Regions from separate parts of the Homo sapiens genome. Here region 2 is linked to region 1. The links come from fine-mapping of genetic effects on gene expression. Tissue or cell type: whole blood. Region 1 holds a variant in brackets; the other region holds the start of a gene. All regions are shown on one strand. Distances are between the middles of the regions.

Region 1 (8,109 bases):
CTCATCTCCATTTGAGACCACCTCAGCCTGGACTTCATTGTCCATATCACTATCAGCATTTTGGTCAAAGCCATTCAAAAAGTCTCTAGGAACTTCCAACCTTTCCCACATTTTCCTGTCTTCTGAGCCCTCCAAGTCTCTAGGAAGTTCCAAAGTTTCCTGTCTTCTTCTGAGCCCTCCAAACTGTTTTAACGTGTGCCTGTTACCCAGTTCCAAAGTCACTTCCACATAATTGGATATCCTTATAGCAGTACCCCACTCTCTGTTGTACCAATTTACTGTATTAGTCTGTTTTCATGCTGCTATGAAGATATACTCAAGACTGGATAATTTATAAAGAAAAGAGGTTTAATTGACTCACAGTTCCTCATGACTAGGGAAACCTCAGGAAACTTACAATCATGACAGAAGGCAAAACAGGCATGTCTTACATGGCGGCAGGTGAGAGAAGTGAGTGCCAACTGAAGGGGGCAGCCCCTTATCAAACCATCAGATCTTGTGAGAACTCACTATCATGAGAACAGCATGAGGGTAACCACCCCCACGATTCAATTATCTCCGTCTGGTCTCTCCCATGACACATGAGGATTACGGGAACAAAAATTTAAGATGAGATTTGGGTGGGGACTCAGCCAAACCATATCAATGACCAATAGAACAGAGGAAATTCATGAGTTTTACCATATTTAGATAGTTTCAGATAAGGTGACTTAATGTACTTCAATATTTGCATTAATTGCTATGGGTATAGAATGAAAGTGTGATCCTTGAATATCTGAGACATGTCTCAGTTAATTTAGAAACTTTATTTTTCCAAGGTTGAGGACACATGCCCATGACACAGCCTCAGGTCATGATGACCTGTGCCCAAGGTGGTCAGAATACAGTTTGATTTTATACATTTTAGGGAGAGATGAGACATTAGTCAATGTATGTAAGATGAACATTGGTTTGGTCTGGAAAAGGCAGGACAACTTGAAGCAACGGTGGGGCAACTCGAAGTGAGGAGGGGGGCTTCCAGGTCATAGGTAGATAAGAGACAAATGGTTGCATTCTGTTGAATTTTTGATTAGCCTCTCCGAAGGAGGCACTCAGATATGCATTTATCTCAGTGAGAAGAGGGGTGACTTTGAATAGAATGGGAGGCAGGTTTGCCTTAAGCAGTTCCTCGCTTGACTTTTCCATTTAGGTTAGTGATTTTGGGGCCCCAAGATTTATTTTCCTTTCACAAAAGTAACACCATATTTCAATAATTGTAGGTAGCATCATATATCAATAATTTAGAAATATGTTCTCAAGTTTCTTTGCCCAAGTGGTGGTCACTGTACAAACTTCAAGATCTTAACGACCTTGTAGTTAAATGTTGCTGGAAACTGTCTTATCTGTGTTTACTGTTTTTCACTCATTCTGTCATTTAACCAATATTTGTTGAGCACCTTCTATGTGCCAGGAGCTATGCTAGGTATTGGTGGCATGGCACTGAATAACATGGACATAGTCTTTGTTCTCAGATAGTAATCACTTAATTTCAAAGGTGATGAATGTAGTGATGAAGTATAGGGGACTATGGGATCTTACAGTAGGAAACTGACCAAGGTTGTCAGGAAAGGTTTCCTTGAAATAAAGGATGGGGCACAACATCTTTTTGACTGGGAAGAGCTTCCTCATTCTCTTCAATAACCAAACTCTATCCAAGAAATTGCTGTCTAAAAATTGAGTGTCAAAGTAATTGGACCTTGGAAGTTGTCAAAAGATTTCTTGAGAAGGCTAGCAAGGATGTATAGCAAGGGGAATGCTTGTACACTGTTGGTGGGAATGTCAATTAGTACAGCCACTATGGAGAACAGTATGGAGGTTCCTCAAATAACTAAAAACAGAACTACTATATGATCCAACAATCCCACTGCTGGGTGTACGCCCAAAGAAAGGAAATCAGTATTTCGAAGAGATGTCTGCACTCCCATGTTTATGGCAGTACTATTTACCATAACCAAGATATGGAAGCAACCTAAATGTCCATCAATGGAGGAATGCATAAAGGAAATGTGGTACATATATACAATGGAATTCTGTTATTTGCAACGATATGGATGGAACTGGAGGACATTATATTAAGTAAAATAAGCCAGGCACAAAAAGACAAACATCACATGTACTCATTCACATATGGGAGCTAAAAAAAATTGAAGTTATGGAGAGAGAGACTAGAATGATGTTTACCAGAAGCTGGGGAGAATAGTAGGTACAGGGGGATAAACAGGGAGTGGTTAATGGATATAACAGTACAGTTAAATAGAATGAATAAGTTGTAGTATTTGGTAGCACAATAAGGTGACTGTAGTTAACAACAATTTATTGTATATTTAAAAATAACTAAAATAGGGGAATTGGAATGTTCTTAACACAAATAAATGATAAATAAATGCTTGAGATGATGGATACCCCAATTACCCTGATTTGATCATTACATACTATATGTCTGTATCAAAACATCATATGTGCTCTGTAAATATATACAACTATTACGTAGCCATATAATTAAAAATAAAAATGAATTTCTGAACAACTAAGGGACTGCTATTTTACTAAGACTCTGATGGCAACTGAAATAAAAGTTACAAATGAATCTTTTGTTTTAAGAATAAAATCAAAGACAGGGAGAAGAATTGGAACATCTAATGTACGCTGTGTATATGTACACATAATTGCTCGACACTAAAGAGAAGAGGACCTTTGTGGAGCCCCTCATGTTTATACCACAGAACCCATACCTGGTACTTGCTATTTCTCAGCTGCCATGGTTCTTTCTGAGGGCAGCGTCTTGCCAAAGCTTACCAACCGTTTCTGAAATAGTATTTACTATTTGAGGAGAGCTCTGAGTTAAGCATTTTCAGTTCAGATGTTGTTTTCCCCTTGAATTTTCAGCAAACCATGTGGAACCTCTGCTTCCTCAGATTCCTGGTATGGTGCCATATTGTGGTCAAAGAGATGTCCAAGAAGTCCTGTTTGCCTCAGATAGTACCTCACAGAGTGTCAGTATCTTAGGAGGTCATTACTGGTCCAGACATTCTGTCTTCATTAAGTAATCAAAGGGAAATAACATTCTGGAAATGGAATAAAACCAGCCATACATATAAAAGAGCAATTATAAATAAGAATGTTAATTTATCAATTTATAACAACTGATAGATCTAGTTTGGGAACTGGAGTTGGTCATTTGTACAGGTATATTCCTGATGGGACAGTTCAAATTGATAAATTAGCATTTGTCTATTAAATACAGAACCAGACAGGAGGAATTGGAAATTCTGAAGGACATCATTAAATGTTGCAGTACTTCAGTCCCCTTTTCTCTTTTCTACATACTACCCATGGGTATCCTCATCTCATCCCAAGGCTTTAAATACCGTCTGTGTACCAGATAGCACAGCATAGTAGTAATGAACATGGGCTCTGGGGTCAACCTGCCTGGGTTTTTCTTCTGGTTTTGCTCCCAGTAGCTATGTGGCCTTGAGGAAATTTTCTGTTTCTTTATCTTTAAAATGAAGACAATAACACAGTGCCAACCTCACAGGGATGTTGGGAGTGTAACTCAGAAAATATTCATAAACTACTTAGATATGCCTGGCATGTAGTAAGTACCCAATAAATGTTAGTTATATACCAAGTACTCCCAAATCTCTATTTCTTGCCCTGACTTCTCCCCAGAATTCTAGACTTATAAATCTAAGTGCTTATTTGACATCTTCACAAAGACATCTAAGAGATATTTCACACTTACTATAGAAATTAGTAGCCTAGGGAGATAAAGATAATGTTTGTCTGTGGGGCAGAGAGCAATGATTTTACCAGGCTCTTGAGTA[C/T]GGATCTGTGTCAGTAAGCAATCTGCGCTTACTTTCAGTTTCAAGTGACTGGTGGTGATCCAGGTTCACGTAAACAAATTCTGTTTGTGGTCTACCCAAACATCTATATCCTCACTACCAACACCATTTATTTTAGCTGTGGGGACCCCTTAACTAGTGGCCACTGCCTTATTGCTTGTTGGCTTGTGCCATGGGGCTTACTGTTTCATCATAATAATAGCCCTCCCTCCTTCTGCCCAGAGGAGAAAGAACAAATACCATTTGGACAGCTTGCTTCAATCCAAACTAATACCCCTCAGCCCCATTAACAGGTAGAACAGTGGGTATCCTCATTCTCCACCTCTCACTCACTACTTGGATGAGAACAGTCACTACTGGATCCCCAGGAGTCTCTCAGATCTTCCAAACAGGCCTGCAAAAGGGCCATTGTACTTTCCTCTTCCCGAAAGCCCTATCTCTGTCAGCATCTCGTCCTCATTGCCAGAACTTCCAACAACTATGAAAAGCCTGAGATTTTATGCCACTTCTAAACTAATAAGTTTGTCTGTTAGTTTCATGGGTACTGACAAAAAACATGAGACTCCTGGGTCAGAGACAAAGGACTTTATTACACTTGGCCCAGCAGGTAGCATGAACTTCATATTTGCATTAGTTCTCCTTGCCTCTAAGTTCCACTGGGTGATACGGAGCAGCCAATCTGGATGCTCTGCATACAGTAAGTTTATGTCATGGTTGAGGAACCCTGGGATTAGGAAACCCTAGTATTTTAAAGAGCGTTTACTTGAGACACAAATATCTTAATACTGTGACCACTTTATGTAGTTCTTTCCCAGACTTCCTTTTTACTGCTTTTCCAATATTGTTTTTCATTTAAGTGACTGACAAGGTGGTCAACCTGTTAACATGCTGCCCATGATTCAATGTAGATATGTACCTCAGGCAATCTCTCCTTCCAAACAAAGTGTACAACTAGATATGCTGCTTCAAGTTCTGCCTGCTGGAGAGATTTTCTTTCATTACTGACTTTGAAGCCTCTACTGAGTGAGGTTCACTGTAGTGGAGAGGCCATTCTCATTCATCTGGGGCTGACATAGCATGCAAATCCAGGCCCATGCTCTTTCTTCCTCCATTAACTGTTCATAGGGAATTCCTCATGAGGCCGTCGGTGTAGAGCAAGGGAGAGGTGGAAGAGTAGCTGGAATTACAAAGTCCCCTGCTTATGCAGCATACTTGTGTATTCTGGACCTGTTCAGACCCATTTTTGTATATTCCACTTCTGTTTTATAATGAATTCCTGTTAGGTAATTCAGTTTTATATTTGGTGGTTCAGAAAACACCCAGTTCATGATGGACAGTTTGCGTTGCATGATAATTTGGTGTCCCGAGGCAGACATTCAATTTCTACCAGCTCTCAGAAGCAAGCTAGGAATTGCTTTTCAAATGGCGAAAGGTTGTCAGCACAAGTGGACATCAGCTTACTGCAAATCTCCTGGGGGGATATCAAAGACTTCCAAGGAGGAAAAAAATCAATCTAAATTCGATTACAAAGAAATGCAAGAGACTCCAGGCCTCAATTTCTTTGCTTTGTATAAAGGTAAAAATGATAGATTTATTACAATTTGAGTTATAAATTTAAATTTACAATTTAGTTACAATTTTAAAAGGCTAAAAGAAGCTTTTTTGTACCAAGCTGTAGAAAGTTTTAGTATAATTTGGTAAAACGATAAGAGAACTTAATTTTAATTAAGTTTTACTTACACTCCTAATAAAAAGAAACCATGTAATAAATTAAATTATTTTGTGAATTTGGGGTTAAATTATGTCTACCTTTTTTTGCTGTTTTTTCCACAGCATGAAATAAAAATGCAAGCATGGCATATTAATTAATTCAATAATTTGTATTTCTGTTTTAACAAAAAACTAAATTAAATGGAACTATCTAAATTTCAGTTGAATTAAGATAGTTAATTAAGATAGTTCTAAGATAGTTAATTAGAACTAATTAACAATTGTCCTATAAGTGAAATAAGTAATTATCGCCTATCCATTATTTAAAAATATGTAAATCTAAACATAGATATATGCAACTACATTGAGTTATAATTTAAATAAGTGGTATATCTGTATAACCGGTTCTTTTATAGAAATCTTAGGCAATATTGCAGATTATATAGACCTACAGAGCTAATCCATTTATACTGTACGTGTACAGTTTTAAGGTGTTATTGGTTTTCTGACCTTTTCTTTCCTTCCTTTGTTCCTTCCTTCCTTCTCTTGCTTTTTCTTTTTCTTTTTTTTTTTTTTTTTTTTTTTTGACAAGCTCTCACTGTGTTGCCCAGACTGGAGTGCAGTGGCAGGATCATGATTCGCTGCAGCCTCAACTCCTGGGCTCAAGCAGGAGTCCAGCTAATTTTCTATTTTTCTTTTCTTGCAGAGACAAGGTCTTGCTATATTGCCCAGGCTGGTCTTGAAGACCCAGTCTCAAGCGATCCTCCTGTCTCAGCTTCCCAAAGTACTGGGATTACAGGCCTGAGCCACTGTGCCCAACCCCATTTCTTAATAGTGTATTGCACCTGAATATTGATTTAAATATACTTTTGAAGTTTCTTAATGGACTTTGAATGCAATAGAATATTAAATTAATACTCAATAAATGTATAGTATAATATTGAATTAATAAATCTGGCAATTTTTAAAAACTTTAAAATCAAGACATAAGACATATAGTACATAGCCACTGTATAGTGCTCATGTGTTTTTAATCTCTATTTTTTAATATTTCTTCTGTAATCAATCACATTAAGATAATAAAATCAATACATTATAAACATTTAAAATAAAATACTTGATAATATGCTTTATAAATGAGAATTTTAAAGATTTAGATAAATACCATCATTTAAAATATTGTTTTGGCTATCAAACAATGTGAATGTCATACTAGGACTAGTAGCTGAAAAGAAGTGAAGATTTGCCTTTGATTATGAGTCTGTGCCTCTTGTGAGGTGCTAAAGAGTCTGTTTTTTGTTTGTTTCCATGTATTTTGTTCAGTTAGCAGAACATTGCTCTGCCAGAGTGGGCCCTCTTCTCAAAATTAACATTTAAGGCCGGGCATGGTGGCTTATGCCTGTAATCCCACCAATTTGGGAGGCTGAGGCAGGTGGATTGCTTGAGCCCAGAAGTTTGAGACCATCCTGGGCAACATGGCAAAACCCCGTCTCTACAAAAAATACAAAAATTAGCCATGCCTGTAGCCCCAGCTACTTGGGAGGCTGAGTTGGGAGGATCACCTGAGCCTGGGGTGTCGAGGCTGCAGTGAGCTGAGATCACATACTGCACTCCAGCCTGGGTGACAGAGGGAGACCCTGTCTCAAAAAAAAAAAAAATTAACATTTAAGTTGACTCTGGTTTTATGCTTTCGGATATTTCATTGATTGTGAAAACAAGGGTTTCTTACTCCTGGAAGAACAAGCATTTCTCAAGGTTCTTTTCTTACCCTCTTGTTGTGGTTGTAATAAAATCGTTGTTTTGGTTAATAACTCTGGACTTTTTTACTCACCAGTATCTTTGTTATGACCATTATCAATTGACTATATTCCCCTGGTAATTCTATCAAATGTTTCTCTTCTCCAAAATCAGATCTCATATTCAGAATTTTTGGAGACCATTAGAATGACTTTGTTTTTGCTTTTTTTTTTCACCCATAGTCTTTGGGGCTCCTTAGGTAGATGCTTGGTAGCACCAAGCTTGTGTGGTCTATCATATGGCAATTGTGAACAAAGAAAGGGCAAAAGGAATTATTAGGCATGGCTGGTTTGCTTCATGAGCCCAGAGTTATTCAATGGTATTGTACAGGTTATCCTCTATCAGGCCTTAGGGGAAAGGGGGCAGCTCAGCTCCCCTTGTGGGGGGCATTAGTAAATAGTTGGATTGATTTATATAAGCAAAGTGTTGTTCACCTACATATGCTTTAGTGACTATGTGTATCTTTATAGGATGTTCATCTAGTATGTTCATAAGTAAGGGCTTATTTGATGCTCTGCAAGCGATCTCTAAAAGACACTATTTCTCAGTTTGCAATATCCTTGTCTATTAATAGTAATCTGGGCACACATTTTATGGAACAGATTATAAAATCTGAAAACCTCAAGATTTATCAATGTTTTCACTGCCTTTAATTTCTTACAAAATTAAATGAAGGCAATAAAACACTAATGGAACTTAAAACTGGCCAACAGGTATAGCA
Region 2 (8,109 bases), 85 kb after region 1:
GGGAAAATGTAAATCAAAACCACAATAATATACCACTTCACACCTATTAGGATGGTGATAATAATCTTTTTAAAAAGGAAAAAAACAAGTGTTGATGAGGATGTGGAGAAATTATAACTCTTGTACACAGCTAGTGGAAATGTAAAATGGTACAGCCATTGTGGAAAACAGTTTGGCAATTTCCCAAAAAGTTAAGCATAGAATTATATGATCTGACAAATCCATTCCTAGGTATATACCCAGATAAAAACAGGTAGTCAAATACTTGTACACATAGCAGCACTATTCGCAAGAGCCAAAAGGCAAAAACAACCCAGGTGTCCACTGATAGATAAATGGATAAATAAAATGTAGTATATACAGAATACAAAATACTATTCAGCCAAAAAGGAATGAAGTACTGATACATGGTTCAGCATAGGTGAACCTGGAAAACATGATGCTAAGTGAAAGAAGTCAGACACGAAAGGTCATATATTGTGTGATTTCATTTATATGAAATTATCCAGAATAGGTAAACCCACAGAGACAGAAAGCAGATCGGTATTTGCCAGGGGCTGGGGGGGAGGGGAGAATGGGAAATGACTGCTTAGTGGGTACAGGGTTTCCTTTTGGGGTGATGAAAATGTTTTAGAATAATAGAAGTGGTGGTTTCACAAAATGTACAAAATGTCACTTTAAAATTATTACATCCTGTTACAAGAATTTCACCTTAATAAAAAATGTCTGAGTGTGAACAGAGAAACAATCAAAGCTGAATCTGGGTTAAGGGACCAAAAACAGAGGCATGAACACCTGGAGGTCACATTGGAGATTGCAGATTCTGAGAGGTGGAAAAACACGTGTCTGAGGATAATGAAAAAATATAAAACAGCTCTCTGCCTGTTGAGCACAATAAACATTTGAAAGATGTGGACGGTTGGTAAAAAGTAGATAACACTGCTCGGGGGCCATCAGGTCACAATCTCTTCACAGAAGAGCATTGCACATTTTGACTCAACCTCAGAATCAGCCCTCATGTGTTTGCTTTACTTACATTTCCAACCACTGCTCTCTCCTGGACCTCAGAATACCTATATCTGCTTCCTGCAAACACACTCAAAGTTAGTTTCTATTTCTTCCTCCCTACAATCCCAGTATGACTGAAGTCCATTGGAATTTAGAACCTTGCTGCTTAGTGTGGTCCATGGACAGGCAGCATTGGTGTCACCTGGGAGCCTCTTAGAAATGCAGAATCTCAGTCCCTATTCCCCAATCAGCATTTTAATAAGATTCCCCCAAGTAATTTATATGCACATTTAAGTTTGACAAATTTCCAACTTTCCATCTATAAAAATCAAAATGAAGAAACAAACGAGATTTATTTTCTCTAGGAAGTCATGATGCTTGATTTTATTTACAATTATTGTTTTGTTCTGTTAGTTTTGCCACCCAGGGCTTGAGTTAAAGGAAATGGGATTATTTTTCAATATGGTTTGTCTTTTCCACTAAATTTTCTAAAAGGAGTCAGGATAGTGCCCAACCCACTTCAAAGAATGTAGGCTGGCATGAGTCATTGTTTTTCATGGTTGTTTCAAAGATTAATTTCATTTGCCCCACATTTTTGCAACAGTGGTCTTCTTTCCCTTCCTAAATCACTCCAGGCTCTTTCCTGCATCACGGCTTTTCACACATGATTCCCTCTGCCCTAAAATCTTCTTCATTTGACTTTTCCTGTTTAACTTTTCACACCCTTTAAATATCAGATGAGATGTTACTTTTCCAGGAAGTCCTTTCTTCATCACTCCGTCCAAAGCAGGTCCCCGTGTTTTTCTCTATGAAGGTGCCCTGCTTATTTTTTTTGCTGGCCTCACATTTTCTAATTATGTACACATTTGTGTGAATGTATGACTGTGTGTAAGCTAAGTAGCATAGTGAAGTGGCTATGAGCACAGACTCCGGAGCCAAGCTTCCTGATTTCCAATTCTAGCAGCCACTTCTCTCCTCCTGGGTCTCAGAACACCTGCATCTGCCTCCTGTAAACTCATTCAAATGTGTTTCTCTTTCTATACCCATTTCCCCCATAAATGTGGGGCAGTGAGCAAGTTACTTTAGTGTTCTGTGCCTTCTTTCCCCATCTGTGAAGTGGAGATTGGAGCACTGTATATTTCATAGGGTCATTATAAGAAGTATTCATGGAAATAGGGAGAAGAAGAGGAGTTTTAACACAAGGACATTCAGAATATTTTATTCTAGAGGTGGAAATAATTTTGCAGGGTGGTAAAAATGAAGCAAAAACTCAAGATTCTGCTCCTAGATCAGGAAGTGGCTCTTGAATGAAGGAAAGAATTCTCTCTCTTTCTGCATTTTATATATATTTCCCAAAGTTCTGTTCTCATTCCAGTTTTCTCCTCAGCTTAACATATCTCTATGCCATTGATTTTTAAGTCTCTAGCCTCAGCTCTACCCCTAGTCCTAAGTTCCCAGGATCCTCCACGTAACTTCCTCATGTATAGCACACTGACATCCTAAAATCAGTAGGTCCAAAATTGAACTCACCTTCCTCCTGTGGCTGCTCTCCACCTTCCAATTTTGTCACTTTCTTTGGCTATCCTGTCTGAAATTTCACTGCCGTCTTTACCATATTTCATCTCTCCCTTTCCTTCTTGATTTATTTCTTCCTACCCAATACACTATTTTACTTGTTTATCTTTTTTTACAGTTTGTCTCCTGCTAAAATGTTAACTCCATGAGGGCAGGAATTTTTGCTTGCTTTGTTCATGATGTATTCATGCAAACTAGAAGAGTGCCAAGCATTCAGTAGGTGCTCAATGAATATTTATTCCTTTCTCATTCCAATTACCAATTACTCTACTTAACTCCATATTGATGGGATCTCTTGCTTCAGTCTCTTCTTTCTCTTATGCTGCTGCCACACTTGTTGAACTGTTATTTTTTCTCATAACTATTACAAGAGCTTGTCGCATGCTGGCTAATGAAATTTGGGCAAATTATTTAAATTAAGTTCACCTCAGTTCTTCATTTTAAAATGGAGATATTAATAGTATAAATTCATAGAATTCTCATGAGACTCATAACGTGTGTACAGCACCTGGCACAATACTTGAAATACAATAAGTGCTCAGTGAATGCTTCCTACTTTTATCTGCTACCCTGGGCTAGCTCTGGACTAGATTTCCATTGGTCTCCTGGACTATCTCTGCCTGAATGCTACACTTTGTCTCCCGTGGACCACTTGTAGTTCCCCAAATGTGATATGAATCTTCATCTTCTCCATATAATGGACAGCAGGAAACAAGAAGCCAGCTGGATCAGTTCATTCTTTTCTCACTGCCATATATAATGCATTGCTGGACTAGCTAGCCCTAATTTGCACTAAAGGAGGGGAGAGATGGAAACCTTTTTTTTTGCAATGAGCAAAAGGTGAGAGGGTTATTTTTGGTGTGTTTGGTTGGGCCCAGAAAATTTGGCTCAACTGAATAATAGGTTTTTAATAATTTAGATGAGGATAGTGAGGTTCAGGAAGGATAAGTAACCTCCCTGAGGTTCACAGTACGATAGTAGATACATTGGTATGAGGGCCCATTTTCTTGGTCTTGGTACTCTTTATAACACAAGATGCTGGTCATAAACCACAAACAGTCTTGTCTTCAAAAGCTTATTTCCTCTGCCCCAGCAAATAACTTTCTTACATGCAGACACAATTGAAATTGTTCACCGACAACCATCTCAGGCTTATCGCATCCAAAGTTGAGAGGAGGTAGTAGTATATCAGGTAACACTGCCAGCGTCCCCTTTCCCGCCCCAATCCCTTGGCAGAGAGCCAGACAACTGTATACAGACGATTTAGGTTGAGCAAGCTGCACAAAACCAGGGAGTCACTCAGTGACTACACCGATCTGGATTGACATTTACCTGGGCCAAAGCAGAAGACAAACAGGAGCGATTGGAACAGCCACAACATGCTTTCCGCGGTGAAGACTGGTGCTTGAGACCTTGAGGCAGTCAATGTTTTTGCCCTTCTGTCATAAACTGAAAATACTTCTGAGACTTCCCCTTCCTCTTAGAGGCGTGGTGACAACTTCTTCCCCTGCACTAAAAATCCTAATTTGTAACTGTGTTAATTTTTTGTTTACTTTTTTCTGAGCTAAGTGCACAAATTTTTTTTTTTTTTGGAAAAGAAGATAAAGTCCTTTATTGCATCTTTCATAAACTTATATGTAAAAGTCTGTAAGGAATTTCCTAAAATCTACTAGAACAAATAAATGAGTTCAGCAAGGTGAAAAGATACAAAATCAAAATATAAAATTCAATTGCAATTGTATATACTAGCTATGAGTAATCCAAAAATAAAATTCAAAAAACAATTCCACTCTAATTACATTAGAAAAAAATATTTAAGTATAAAGCTAAGAAAAAGCCAAAAGAAAACTGATTTTTTAAAATTATACTTTAAGTTCTAGGGTACATGTGCACAATGTGCAGGTTTGTTACATATGTATACATATGCCATGTTGGTGTGCTGCACCTATTAACTTGTCATCTACATTAGATATTTCTCCTAATGCTATCCCTCCCCTTGCCCCCCACCCCGTGACATACCCCAGTGTATGATGTTCCCCTACCTGTGTCCATGTGTTCTCATTGTTCAGTTCCCACCTATGAGTGAGAACATGCGTTGTTTGGCTTTCTGTTCTTGTGTTAGTTTGCTGAGAATGATGGTTTCCAGCTTCATCCATGTCCCTGCAAAGGACATGAACTCATCCTTTTTTATGGCTGCATGGTATTCCATGGTATATATATGCCACATTTTCTTTATCCAGTGTATCATTGATGGGCATTTGGGTTGGTTCCAAGTCTTTGCTATTGTGAACAGTGCTGCAATAAACATAAGTGTGCATGTGTCTTTATAGCAGCATGATTTATAATCCTTTGGGTATATAACCAGTAATGGGATTGCTGGGTCAAATGGTATTTCTAGTTCTAGATCCTTGAGGAATCGCCACACTGTATTCCACAATGGTTGAACTAGTTTACACTCCCACCAACAGTGTGAAAACATTCCCATTTCTCTACATCCTCTCCAGCATCTGTTGTTTCCTGATTTTTTAATGATTGCCATTCTAACTGGCATGAGATGGTATCTCATTGTAGTTTTGATTTGCATTTCTCTAATGACCAGTGATGATGAGCTTTTTTCATATGTTTCTTGGCCGCATAAATGTCTTCTTTTGAGAAGTGTCTTCATATCCTTTGCCCACTTTTTGTTGGGGTTTTTTTTTTTTTCTTGTAAATTTGTTTGAGTTCTTTGTAGATTCTGGATATTAGCCTTTTGTCAAATGGATAGACTGCAAAAATTTTCTCCCATTCTGTAGGTTCCCTGTTCACTCTGATGATAGTTTCTTTTGCTGTGCAGAAGCTCTTTAGTTTAATTAGGTCCCATTTGTCAATTTTGGCTTTTGTTGCCATTGATTTTGATGTTTTAGTATTGAAGTCTTTGCCCATGCCTTTGTCCTGAATGGTATTGCCTAGGTTTTCTTCTGGGGTTTTTGTGGTTTTAGGTCTAACATTTAAGTCTTTAATCCATCTTGAGTTAATTTTTGTGTAAGGTATAAGGAAGGGAACCAGTTTCAGTTTTCTGCATAATTGCTAGCCAGTTTTCCCAACACCATTTATTAAATAGGGAATCCTTTCCCCATTGCTTGTTTTTGTTAGGTTTGTCAAAGATCAGATGGTTGTAGATGTGTGATGTTATTTCTGAGGCCTCTGTTCTGCTCCATTGGTCTATATATCTGTTTTGGTACCAGTACCATGCTGTTTTGGTTACTGCAGCCTTGTAGTATAGTTTGAAGTCAGTTAGCGTGCTGCCTCCAGCTTTGTTCTTTTGGCTTACAATTGTCTTGGCTATATGGGCTCGTTTTTGGTTCTGTATGAAATTTAAAGTAGTTTTTTCTAATTCTGTGAAGAAAGTCAATAGTAGTTTGATGGAAATAGCATTGAACCTATAAATTACTTTGGGCAATATGGCCATTTTCATGATATTGATTCTTCCTATCTATGAGCATGGAATGGTTTTCCATTTGTTTGTGTACTTTCTTATTTCCTTGAGCAGTGGTTTGTAGTTCTCCTTGAAGAGGTCCTTCACATCCCTTGTAAGTTGTATTCCTAGGTATTATATTCTCTTTGTAGCAATTGTGAATGGCAGTTCACTCACGACTTGGCTCTCTGTTTGTCTATTTTTGGTGTATAGGAATGCTTGTGATTTTTGCACATTGATTTTGTATCCTGAGACTGCTGAAGCTGCTTATCAGCTTAAGGAGATTTTGGGCTAAGACAATGGAGTTTTCTAAATATACAATCATGTCATCTGCAAACAGAGACTATTTGATTTCCTCTCTTCTTATCTGAATACCCTTTACTTCTTTCTCTTGCCTGATTGCCCTGGTCAGAACTTTCAATATTATGTTGAATAGGAGTGGTGAGAGAGGGCATCCTTGTGCTAGTTTTCAAAGGGAATGCTTCCAGATTTTGCCCATTCAGTATGATAATGGCTGTGGGTTTGTCATAAATAGCTCTCATTATTTTGAGATACGTTCCATCAGTACCTAGTTTATTAAGAGTTTTTAACATGAAGGGATGTTGAATTTTATCAAAGGCCTTTTCTACATCTATTGAGATAATCATGTGGTTTTTGTCATTGGTTCTGTTTATGTGATGAATTACATTTATTGATTTGCATATGTTGAACCAACCTTGCATACCAGGGATGAAGCCAACTTGATTGTGGTGGATAAGCTTTTTTTTTTTTTTTTTTTGAGGTGGAGTCTTGCTCTGTCGCCCAGGCCAGAGTGCAGTGGAACAATCTTGGCTCACTGCAAGTTCCGCCTCCTGGGTTCATGCCATTCTCCTGCCTCAGCCTCCTGAGTAGCTGGGACTGCAGGTGCCCACTACCACGCCCAGCTAATTTTTCTGTATTTTTAGTACAGACAGAGTTTCACTGTGTTAGCCAGGATGGTCTCGATCTCCTGACCTCATGATCCACCCACCTCAGCCTCCCAAAGTGCTGGGATTACAGGCACGAGCCACCATGCCCGGCTGGTGGATAAGCTTTTTGATATGCTGCTGGATTCAGTTTGCCTGTATTTTATTGAGGATTTTTACATCAATGTTCATCAGGGATATTGGCCTAAAATTTTCTTTTTTTGTTGTGTCTCTGCCAGGTTTTGGTATCAGGATGATGCTGGCCTCATAAAATGAGTTAGGGAGGAGTCCCTCTTTTTTTATTGTTTGGAATAGTTTCAGAAGGAATGGCACCAGCTCCTCTTTGTATCTCTGGTAGAATTCGGCTGTGAATCCATCTAGTCCTGGGCTTTTTTTGGTTGGTAGGTTATTAATTACTGCCTCAAATTCAGAACTTTTTATTGGTCTATTTAGGGATTTGATTTCCTTCTGGTTTAATCTTGGGAGGGTGTATGTGTCCAGGAATTTATCCATTTCTTCTAGATTTTCTAGTATTTGTGTAGAGGTGTTTGTAGTATTCTCTGACGGTAGATTGTATTTCTGTGGGATCAGTGGCAATGTCCCCTTTATCATTTTTTATTGTGTCTATTTGATTCTTCTCTTTTCTTCATTAGTCTGACTAGCTATCTATTTTGTTGATCTTTGCAAAAAACAGCTCTTGGATTCATTGATTTTTGAAGGGTATTTAGTGTCTCTATCTCCTTCAGTTCTGCTCTGATTTTAATTATTTCTTGTCTTCTGTTAGCTTTTGAATTTGTTTGCTCTTGCTTCTCTAGTTCTTTTAAGTGTGATGTCAGATGTGAATTTTAGATTTCTCTTGCTTTCCCTTGTGAGCATTTAGTGCTATGTTTCCCACTACATACTGCTTTGGCTGTGTCCCAGAGATTCTGGTACATTGTGTCTTTGTTCTCATTGGCCTTAAAGAACTTATTTATATCTGCCTTAATTTTTTTATTTACCCAGTAGTCATTCAGGGCAGATTGTTCAGTTTCCATGTAGTTTTGTGGTTTTGAGTGAGTTTCTTAATCCTGAGTTCTAATTTGATTGTACTGCGGTCTGAGAGACAGTTTGTTATGATTTCCATTCTTT

Evidence for each region. PIP is the estimated chance that this variant, and not a neighbour inherited with it, causes the effect.
Region 2: SLAMF6 starts here. The variant in region 1 is fine-mapped to the expression of SLAMF6 in whole blood (TOPMed, PIP 0.94).

The regions. Positions count from the first base shown.
Region 1 is chr1:160,434,187-160,442,295 of GRCh38, forward strand. LOC105371467 (a long non-coding RNA gene) reads right to left here and starts at 3,991. Exons shown (of 3, transcript XR_922202.3): 1 at 3,896-3,991; 2 at 2,772-3,104. The variant C/T (reference allele first, on the strand shown) is at 3,864.
Region 2 is chr1:160,519,229-160,527,337 of GRCh38, forward strand. SLAMF6 (SLAM family member 6) reads right to left here and starts at 4,027. Exons shown (of 8, transcript NM_001184714.2): 1 at 3,916-4,027. The coding sequence starts at 3,964. RefSeq lists an enhancer at 3,812-3,861.